Linked DNA regions of Homo sapiens. The protein of the gene in region 1 purifies or fractionates together with the protein of each later gene. This does not show direct contact. Each region holds a gene or a part of one and is shown on either strand. Other genes may lie near its edges. The genes, in order: ST8SIA1, RPIA and INTS1.

What was found.
Region 2: the proteins of ST8SIA1 (region 1) and RPIA purify together in Homo sapiens (affinity purification with mass spectrometry; 2 studies listed by BioGRID and IntAct, with this or other methods). This does not show direct contact.
Region 3: the proteins of ST8SIA1 (region 1) and INTS1 purify together in Homo sapiens (affinity purification with mass spectrometry, with the first as the bait; one large-scale study listed by BioGRID). This does not show direct contact.

Annotation. Positions count from the first base shown.
Region 1 is NC_000012.12:22,195,628-22,198,760, reverse strand, and holds part of ST8SIA1 (alpha-N-acetylneuraminide alpha-2,8-sialyltransferase), read left to right. Parts: 3' UTR 1-3,133. UniProt on the Homo sapiens protein: Catalyzes the addition of sialic acid in alpha 2,8-linkage to the sialic acid moiety of the ganglioside GM3 to form ganglioside GD3; gangliosides are a subfamily of complex glycosphingolipds that contain one or more residues of sialic acid.
Region 2 is NC_000002.12:88,733,173-88,736,672, reverse strand, and holds part of RPIA (ribose-5-phosphate isomerase), read right to left. Parts: intron 2,122-3,500; coding exon 2,057-2,121; intron 1,471-2,056; coding exon of another isoform or gene 1,455-1,470; exon of another isoform or gene 1,374-1,454; intron 1,005-1,373; coding exon 936-1,004; intron 139-935; coding exon 1-138. UniProt on the Homo sapiens protein: Catalyzes the reversible conversion of ribose-5-phosphate to ribulose 5-phosphate and participates in the first step of the non-oxidative branch of the pentose phosphate pathway.
Region 3 is NC_000007.14:1,469,556-1,473,393, forward strand, and holds the end of INTS1 (integrator complex subunit 1), read right to left. Parts: intron 3,630-3,838; coding exon 3,517-3,629; intron 2,832-3,516; coding exon 2,718-2,831; coding exon of another isoform or gene 2,688-2,717; intron 2,087-2,687; coding exon 2,016-2,086; intron 1,670-2,015; coding exon 1,578-1,669; intron 1,401-1,577; coding exon 1,291-1,400; intron 1,138-1,290; coding exon 1,022-1,137; 3' UTR 722-1,021; downstream 1-721. UniProt on the Homo sapiens protein: Component of the integrator complex, a multiprotein complex that terminates RNA polymerase II (Pol II) transcription in the promoter-proximal region of genes.

The DNA.
Region 1 (3,133 bases):
ACCTGGATTAGACCTGGATTAGACCAAAATGAAATTTTGATTGTTCCACCTTGTCTTCACTTAAAGATAGATATACATGCTCACAGCATTCAAAATATGACTACAATTTAATGAAAATATTTTCTTATGGTAGATTACAACTCACTAGATACACCATACATATGCCTTTTGGACATAATTGGTTAGATAGGAGTGTGTGTGTGTGTGTGTGTGTGTGTGTGTGTGTGTGTGTGTGTGTAGCATGAAGTTAGGCATCTCTATCCTTAACTGTGCTATGTGTTCCTAAGTAAGGACCTCGCTAGAATCATCCTGTAGAGTGCTCTGGAATACTCTATTATTAAGATCTTCAATTCTAAGCTCCCATTATCTTTCTTTGTTTATCTGAAATTAAGACCTTCAGAATTAGGCCTGGTACTTTTCCAGATTTGATCAGTTACATTTTGATATAACTGACTCTTAAAATTCAGCTTAGAAGACATTCAATAAGAAAATCTTTAATCACTTTTGGTGATGCACCTGCCAAGAGGGGGCATCACTTTGTACCATCAGACTAATTAAAAAAATTGTTGTGTAGTCATAAAAATTAGGCTGATCCATAGGGGCAAAAGGAAGGGTGAAGAGACTAAAAACTAGTACCCTGATAGAATTTTAGTTTTTATTAGCCTCGATTTGAGAACTGCATTGATTCCAAAGATCATGAAGGTAGGTGAAGGATTAAGTCATTCCATAATTAAGAAAAGTAATGTTTATATGAAAGATTTTTATATGGACAATGACTCACAGACACATATGCTTTGTATAGAGGATTTTGCCAAAAGTTTATACAAAATTGCACATCTAAACTGCATAATTCTCATACAAGAAGTTAAGGAAGTGCTCACTGGATTTTGCTTCTGTATAGTTCACTTTTATCTGTCTTCACAAGGGTAGGAAGTAAATGATCTCAAATGGCACATGTTCAGACAATACTGTGTTTGGCTTTGTGATGTCTCATGTCTTTCTCTTGGCTAAAAAAAATTGTTTAGGCTATATATAACTTGTACCTGAAGCAATCTGGACAACATGGCTTAAAATGGAAAATAACTGAAAAAATCCTGGGATTTTAAATTTGCCAAAAATACCCTTGGATTAGTCAAAGGCTTTACAAGAGTGTTATAGATGATCCAAAATGGAAACAATATTGATAACATTTCTTTTCGTCAGCAGCTACATATTCCAGTTTTATAACTTTATTATATACATTTTTTGATTATTAATAGAAAGTCAGCCATCCAGAGTTTTAACTTCTGTGGTTGAAATATTGACTTTGTGAAATTTTTCACTGACAAATACTTGTTAGGAGGGACCTAAGGGGGAGGGGAATGTTACCAGTCCACTGAAAACTTTAGGAAATGTTCATTGTGTTGTGTAAATACTTTCCCACCAGCACCAGGTAATATATTCTCTATGTTTGTAGAATTCCAAAGATCAAAAGCTGTAAGGACGTTTATGTGAACTTGACGCAAACTTGTGGAGGAATAAGGACTGAGAGTAATGTTGTGCTTTTTCTTTATCTTCCCGTCGTATAGGTCGACTCTCAGGTTATATGACTTTTATTGGGCACACGTCAGGGGTGGAAGTGGTAGAAGTGGGTTAACAATTTCAAGGCCTGGCAACCTAGGTCAAAACCTCTAATAAAGTCAGCAGTAAACATAACTAGCAACTTCATTCCACTATGTGCTAGGAGGAGGGTGAGGCAAGTTGAAAGGAGATGACCCTATCCCCACACTCTCAGGATGTAAAAGGGCAGAGTGCTCTCTACCCTTAACCTTGGCTTTTTAGCACCGTCAGTCTCTGTCCTCTCCCAGGAGAGCTGCCTTGGCTCCAGAGTTGAGCTAGTAGCATTGTGACTAGAGAGGTAGTGTGGAAATTCGCTGAGGACCTCAAAATTTTACACTGCCTTAAACTGTTTTGTTTTTGCTTAAACTCGTGCTGTCTAAATGTGGGTGTTTTGTGGCAGAGTCTGATCACCCCGACCTAGTTATAGCCCTGCCAGTGATTCTAAAGTGGAACTTTTCCCCCTCATTCATATGGATAGTCTGAGTCCTTGAAGCTAGGGAGATATCAAATATTCTACCAGTTCCTACATAGCTTCTTTAAAAGTCCTAGAGACTAACTCACAGGAAGTCTGAAGCCCAGAGCGTCTGTTTATAAACTCCTAAATATGAGGCCACAATATTTAGGTTGAGCACTAGAAAATTTCTATTTTGCAAGTGGAAGGAGACTTGAATCTATAATTGCTGTAGCTTTTTTTCCCTTCTATCATAAGAAAATGGATACCATCTGCTTTACCCTCAGCCCAGACTTGTCTTTTGAATTTTTTACATACATCTTAGGGGTGAGAGATTGAAACAAGTGCATGAATGAAAAGCTTATTGAAACATAACACAGCCCCTGCTCACCATTTCAGTAAGGGAAAATACATGTTTCTGTTTCCCTCTAATTTGTTTTCTCTGGTGCCAACATTTCTGATTTCTTCTGTCTCTAATACATAAGGAATAAATACCATATTTTAAATTGACTTACATGCCTGCGAGCATTTGCCAGATAATCAAAGCCTATGACTCTAACTTTTTAAAGCACAGAAGAGGAATTATATTTTATGGTCACTCCTCTGTGTTTCTATTGATCTCTATATTGTGCTAAAATTCTTTCAGGTAATTTTTTTCTTGTTGAAGCTGTGGGATATAATCAATGATGCCAAGCTGTCTGAGAATTTTATAGAATAATATCCAAATATATTGATCCTGCCTCTTTCTGCTTCTATGTAATTAAACTTTCTTTTGATGTTTATTTTTAAAATGTATGCTTCACACAACACCAATAAACATCTAAGAGATGTGATATAATCCAAGGCAAAGAAAAGTAAGAATCAGTTAATGTCTATTTTATCTGCACAGCATTACGAACAGAAAATTGTAATAAAAAAAGGTTTAACCAAACTGAAAAAAAGAGAGACAAAATCTTGGTTTTAATTTGAAAAGATGATTGGGAGTGATCTCAGAAGAGAGTTCAGCAGGAAGCAAGGAAGAGGCTGTTGACCTTGAGTGCAGCCTCAAGAATGGAACCTTTTTGAAATATTTTAAAGGAAATA
Region 2 (3,500 bases), on another chromosome or scaffold:
TTGTTGACAGCCATTCGAAGTTCAACCACGCCCCCAAACTTCTGGCTCACAGCTCGGCTCACTGGGACATAGGCCATTGGGATGACCTCGATGGGGATTCCCTTGTGCCACTGATCCCCGAGATTCTTCGAATCTTTCCTGGAAAGAAGGAGTCAGAAAGTACAATAAAAGTAAATAAGCTCAACAGTACAGGCAAACACCAAATTCAGGAACAGGGTTAATGAGATGGTGGGAAGGCAAGGAAAGTGATCAAGGGCAATATACATGGGGCTACAAATGAATTAGCTGTTTCACTATATAGGAAAAGAGCTATTTGAAATAAATATGACAAAAATGTTAAAATCTGATATTGCTGGCTTGTGGGTATGTAGGTGTTTAATATTTATGCTCGTCCTGTGGCTATATTTCACAAGTAAATATACACATACACATATTTGAAATTAACATGCTCAGCACAAGTGCTTTTGACTACATTCCTTGAAGGAGCATCTGAGAGCCTGGTCAAAGACTATCAATGACACCAGTCACCTGCGGCAAACCCTGACCCGAGAAGAAGCAGGGTATGCTGAGTCACTGCCCGTGGGCAGGGCACACCCTGCCTCCTCTGAGGCTCCCTGTGAGGATCCAGTGAGTGACATGACACATGAGAGCATGCTCTGCTAACAGGGTGACAAGCTGTTTCCCCGTTCCACTGAACACATGAAACGATGCTAGAGATCCTGGCTGCGGATAACAGTGCTGTGATTAGCAACATCTACCTTCAGCCTACAAGCAGAACATAAGGTCTCCTAGACACTGTACTAAGTCCTAGCCATCAGTCTCAGAAAGTCAGACAGTCCCTGCAGCTCTCCATTTCCTCTTTCACAAAAATGGGGATGCGGCTTGGGGATCCAATCTACCTCCTCAGTTGGCAGCTCAGACACCAGAAACTGTACCTGAAATCAGCGATCACGATGAAGCGACTAGCATAGCCAGCCACAATCTTCTCCTGGGTCAGGCAGCCTCTGCAGGAAAGAAGCAAAGGAACACAGGAGTAAGACAAAAATCTCAGTTTGGGAACTAAGGTTAAATACAGGAATCCCAAATCCACTCAATCCTGGCACTTAAAGAGAAACTTAACTTTTAATTTTTAAAGGGACATCCCCAGTCCCATCATGCTGCTCCTAGTAAATGGACTCTAGAAACATTACCCCTGTCTGGGAGAAACCTAGAAAGCAGACAAGGTTCCCATTCAGGCCAGGCATAATTCCATCCAAATGTGTCTGAGAGGGAGCATTGTGTTCAGGGAGATGTCATCTGGACATGGCATGAATGGGAGGGTCTAGAAGCTGAGGAGGGCACGCTTTGAACAACCCGCCCAGTCGACTACTTGCCAATGAGGGTGATGAAGTGGAGAGAGCCCAGAGCACTGAATCAGCAGATTTGGGTCCAGGTCTACCTCTAGGGTTTAGCAGCTAAACTATCTCACATCTGCAGTTGACAGGATTAAGTAACACGTAAGAAAATCTAATAAACAGTAAAGTGTGATTTTAAACAAATGCTGCATCACTCAATAGTCTGCTTGATTATAAGAACCAGCAGAACAGGATTTCACCTTTTTCAACTCACCATTCCCACCACTCCCCAAATCAGCACTTAAGAAATACCCAATTAATGTTTTCCAAAGGAACAAATAATATCCCTAACTGCTCACAGAAGTAAGCACAGCTTTAAAGCAAAAGTCACACACTGGTGCCCACAGACCTAACAATCTAGCCCAGTATTATTTTGATTTGGCCTTAAGTTTTTAAAGTCTGAATCAACAAAAGAACACAAATCCACAGAGAATCCATTACGATGAATGATCTCACTAAAGAGGCCCAGGTTCCTTGTCAGTAAATTGCTGCTAATGACCAGAAATGCTGAGTTGGGTCTAAGGCCATATGCTATCAATATCCTAGGAGAAAGACAAACTTGCATATGTCACAGTGGCAATTTGTTTATTCTGTATCCATCTTGCTTTGCTAAGGATTAACTGGCAGATACTCTTTAGCACAGAAGCCCCCACAACACTCACCCGCCACCCTTGATGAGATTGAGATCAGCATCTACTTCATCAGCACCATCGATGGCAAGGTCGATCTGTATTGGGGGAAAGGTAAAGATACAAAAACCACTCGAGGGGAGCCTCTGCTAATTGCCTGAGCATGCGATAGCTCATCAGATACTCAGCAGCCCTGTTAGCTAATTCTAGTACTCCCATTTAGCAAATCAAGAAATTGAGCTACAAGAGGTTAAGCTGCTCCACTAGGATCAAAGGGAAACAGCACAGGACTTGGGACTCTAACCGGGATGCAGTTCTTACCCACAAGACTATGTTCCCTTTTCTCATTGATGGGCTTCTCTGTGGACAAGCTGGCGTTATTTAGAGCACGTGTTCTCAGTGTGGGTGCTATCACCTCCCCCAAGAGGCAAAAATTAGTTTTTGGTGGGGGAATAAAAAATCTTAGACATTACAATGAGTTTTGTCCCACCAAAGGGCCAATACAGTAATATCTGTGCTACTAAATTCCACTGGGGGTGGGAAAAATGCAAAAAAAAAAAACTGATTCAGAAGTCTCTGTACTAACTGTGAGCAACCTCACAGGCAATTTTAAGTGGACATGAGGATCAAATGAAGAGATACACAAGAAAGCTGATGAGTTCCCGAACTGGAAATTACTGGGGCATTGCCACTAAGACCCCACTTGTCTGGGCTTGCCCGCTCCCTCTATTAGGAAGCTCCACCACAAGCCCCAAAAGCAGTTGAGGGGCAAATGGGTTCATCTAGCTTTTAAAAATCAAAATCAAGAAAGTTACACATTTCTCATCACTCATGGTACTCTGCATGGACATTGTAGGAACCCCGAGTATATTTTTAAAGACAGCAAGTAGTATGCAGGGTACAAATTCTATTCATGGTGCAGTTACTAAGTTGCTTGGCATGGCTGGCATGGCACAGGTATAAAAAATACAGTTTCATATGGGTCATGCTTGCTTCCAGCCTTTTACAGATTCCAGCCTTTGTCTGAAGTTACAGCAGGCACTGCTCTCCCCAGGCCTGCATTAACCCCAGAGCCAGGCTGCACTCTGGCAATTCTCAGGGGTATGGAAAGTGGCAACCTTTTCTGTCTGGGCTCCAGGCCCACCTTCAGCCCAAACCACTCTCTTCACAGCTGCTGAACACATGATCAGCCTGTGCCCCTGGCTCTGCCCACAGAAATCCCCAAGTCCTTCCCATAGTTCTTACTAACCCCTGTGAGGCCCATGTGTATGACAGAAACATGGGCTACCAGATCACCATCAAGTCTCAACCTGCCTGGTTTTCCAGGTGCCATAAAACCACCCCACTTTTCCTATCCAGCTTTGCTTTCCCTCTCCCCACTATGCACCAACGCAGTACACTCACTCTGTCCTATCACCCCAGCCAGTCCGAGCAGTGTCCATTTGCCCACATGGAGCTGTTCCTGTGGTTCCCGTCT
Region 3 (3,838 bases), on another chromosome or scaffold:
AGCGGCTGGGGTGGAGGGCAGCCGGGGCCTGGCTGACCTGGGAGCACTCATGGGGAACCGGGAGAGCACGGGTCCCATCTGTGTGCTGGAAAGACCCCGGTGCAGCGAGGACAGAGGGGTGGGCGGCTCTAACCCCAACCTGGCTGGGAGGGAGGAGAGTGCACTGCGGGCCAGCAAACAGGGCCCCATGCCAAGCTCCGCCCCGCATGCACTAGGACCCTCCCAGACCCTCCCCTGGGAGCTGGTGCCTGCAAAGGCAGGACGAGCAGCACCACCGGCTACTCGGACTCTTCTGGAATGGGACCCCAACTCAGCTCCCACAGAGGGACGCCCACAGTTGAGGCTCTCAGGGCCTTGTTGATCCTTTTAGTGCAGGAGAGAGAGACCAGTCAGCTGGGCCAGTCCCCCACGCAGCCTGACAAGGCCGGACTCACTCAACAGAGGCCGACCCCGTGGGCAGAGGACTTGAGGCCCGGCAGGGCCCAGGGCCGGCACTCGACAGGGAGACCATGACGTGGGGCGGGGGCGGCCAAGTGGGCAGCATCCCCCGACCCTCAACACCTGCGGGAACTGCTGGCCCAAGGGAGAGCCCAGCCTGGCCCTGGTCTCCACCACCCCGGACCCTGCTCAACTCCCTGCACTGTGGGGCTGGGAAGCCAAGGCCAGGGTCCTTGAGGCTCTCACTGGCCAGAGGGCGACATGGGACACCAGAGAGCACACAGACAGTTCAGGTCGTTTCATTCAAAACCAGCCCAGGCCATGCCCGGGGGGATCCGCCGCTCCGCGGCAGGGCTGTGGCCCAGAAGGTGAATGAGGGCTTGCTGGACGGCCCCTGATGCCAGCGGCCGGCCCGGAGCCACCCCAGGGCTCGGAGTATTGCTCCTGGGCCTGCCTGGCCTCAGGGCTCGGCGCCCTCACCTCCTCGGACAGACCAGCAACGCCCACGCTTCCTGGGCTTTGCCTCGAGGATCCCCGGGGACGGGACGGGCCGGGGCTTGGAGGGGGGTCGGCTGCCACAGGCTCACATCACGGCCTCCATATGCAGGATCCTCAGGGCCTCGGAGATCTGCGCGCTGGGGTCCATCTGGCCGTACATGCCCACCAGGAAGGCCCGGTGGAGCAGCACAGCCGCGTGCTCTGTGGGGGAAACGGGGCCCTGCACGTCACGCTGGCCACAACATCCTGGCCGCAGTGACCAGACCTCGGGACTCCCAAGAGCCAGCCCTCGGGGGACGCACCTCCGGCCTCCCCGAGGGCTGCCAGGGCCCTGGGCGGGGGGCCAGTCCTCACCTTGGCACAGGAGAGCGTACTCAGGCAGGTTCCGGAGGGCCGTCTGCACCACCTCAAAGTCCTGGCTGCCCAGGCAGTACATGAACGTGGGCAGGAAAGCGGCTGCAATGCTGAAAGACCCACACACTTCAGTGGGAACCTCCACCCTGTGCCCACGCCAGACCCCCACCCGACAGGGCGAGCTGAGCCGCCTGGAAGCCTGGTCTGGCCACCAGGCGGGTCAAGCGGTGACCTGGGTTAGCAGGGCCCAGCGGTGGCGGCGGGACAGAGGCCGGCGGTGGCCTCACCTGGGGCTGTTCTGCATGGAGCGCAGGGCCAGGCTGAAGGCGAGGTTGCGGCAACACTCCTCGGCCGAGCTCATCAGCCGCTGCAGGTTGGTCTGACCGGGGGAAAGGTGGGAGGTGTGTGACCAAGGGGTCCAGCCCCCATCAAGGCCCCTTCACCTCTTGGTCTCGTGATGGTTGGCGGCAACGGCAGGGACCCTAGGCCCCTATCCAGAAGGCAGGACGCACGTGCCACTGGCCGGTCCCAGCCCGGGGCTGAAGGCAGGCCTGCTCTGGCGGCGGCTTGACTGTGAACACCTGGGCTGGGGCCCCCACCCGAAGCCCAGCCTCAGAGGACTCCCTGGGGCTCAGCGCGGGCACGCCATGTTGGGGTGGTGGCCCTGCTGGGGTTCCCCAAGGGAGTGGCTCCTCCCAGCTCTCCCTCAGCCCCATCCAGCTCACCGAGAAGAAGCTCAGGATCTCGGGTCTCCGCCGGGACATCTCGTCTATGTCACTCAGAACCTCCAGCAGATCTGACACAGAGAGAGGGCCAGACCAGAACTGAAGGGCCCAGGCAGACCTCTGCCCACCCCACCCCAGCCACCCAGAGGGGGCAAGGCCCCGAGCACCACAGGACAGAAAGCACTGGAAAGCATGAGCCCAGTGACGCCCCAGGCAGTCACCTGCCCCCAAGCTCCACAAATACCCGGCCCTGCCCCTACTAGTGGCCTCCAAGGAGAGGGGTTGACCCCTCACGGCAGCCCCATATCCAGGGTGCTCTTAGCACCAAGTGTCCCCACGGCCCGACTCCATCCGGGCCGCTCAGCCTTGGCTGTCCTCTGACAGCGGCCACCGGTACTGCCCACCCGCTGGTCTTGCCCACCCGCCTGACCTCTTCCTGCTGTACCCCCACCACCTTAGGGGGCTCCCCTGCTTTTTGCTGTGCCTGAAGCAGAGCAGCCACCTCCAGCTCCCCTGGGCCCCTGAGTTTCTAAGGCCCTCTCTGGGGGTGCTCCCCACTGTGAGGAACAGCCCACCCACCCACAGCCCAGCGTGGGCCAGGCTCACGCCAAAGTCAGTGCCCAAATGGCTACTGGCTGCTGCCCGCAGCCCCATGGGACCCAGGGCGCTGACCTGGCGTGGGTGAAGCAGGGCCTGACTCACCCTCCACCGTTTGGCCCCGGGAAAGCCGTTTCATGTAGGGGGCCATCTCGGCCGCGGTCAGAGGGGTGAACAGGGAGACGCTGACCAGGGGCAAGGAGCCGGCTGAGCTCTCCTCTGGAAGACAGTGGCAGTGCTGCAGGAGGGCGGGAGCGGCAGGACGTGCCACACTGAGGCACCAGGACCTGCCCTCCCGAGAGCACGGCGGCCACTGCCCAGGCTCCCAAGGTGCCTGCACACAGCAGCGCTCCACAAATGGGGTGGAGCCAGGAGCCGGGAGCTGCCTTTGGATCCGGCGCATGCACCTCTGCGAGTCTCTCCCTGCTGGGTTTCTCGCAATGTGGGCCAGGACCCACTGGGCACAAGACGGGATGGCCCCTTGGGACCCGGGCCTGGCGCTCTTCCGGCGGCACAGGAGAGACGTGCTGCGGTGCCGTGTCACCTCAGGCAGGGAAAAACCAAGGACAAGCCTTGCCCAGTAGGACCAGGGGAGGCTTCCTGGGGAGGGACACCTCGGACAAGCACTGGTGGATGGTGGATGTGCCAGGGACGGGGGGGTGGGGAGGGCCATTTGCCGGGGCGGGGCGATGTGCCGGGGGGCAGGTGTGCTGATGCTCTGTCAGGCACCAGTCAGTGCTTCGTCCCCTTGAGGTGGGTCAGGGGCCAGCCAGCAAGGTCCCAGGCTCACACAGCCCCCATCGGGACGCCTCGGACGGCCCAGGGCTGGCTGTGCGCTGGGAAAACCAGGCCCTGTAGGACTGTTCCGCAGCTGCTTCCAGCAGCCCCTGGCAGCCCCACTCACCCTCGCCCTCTTCGTCCAGGCCTCGGTCGGTCCTGTCGTCCCTGCTGGGCAGGCTGAGCCCTGCAAGGAGGGATTTCAGCATCACCAGGTCACTGTTGTCGAAGGACAGGTCGCTGGGGAGAGAAGATGCTTTCACCTGGGAGGAAGACGCTGGCAGGAGGAAGGCTGGGTCAGGGGTCAAACTAGGGTGGCATGGGAGCGTGTGGACACAGGCATGCAGGAGAGGCCAGGACGCTCAGAGGGAGGGCCGGGCGGGGAAGCCACATGTGCGTGGAACGGGACAGAGAGCCAGAGAGCTGCAGGGGTGGGTTCAGACGGCTTC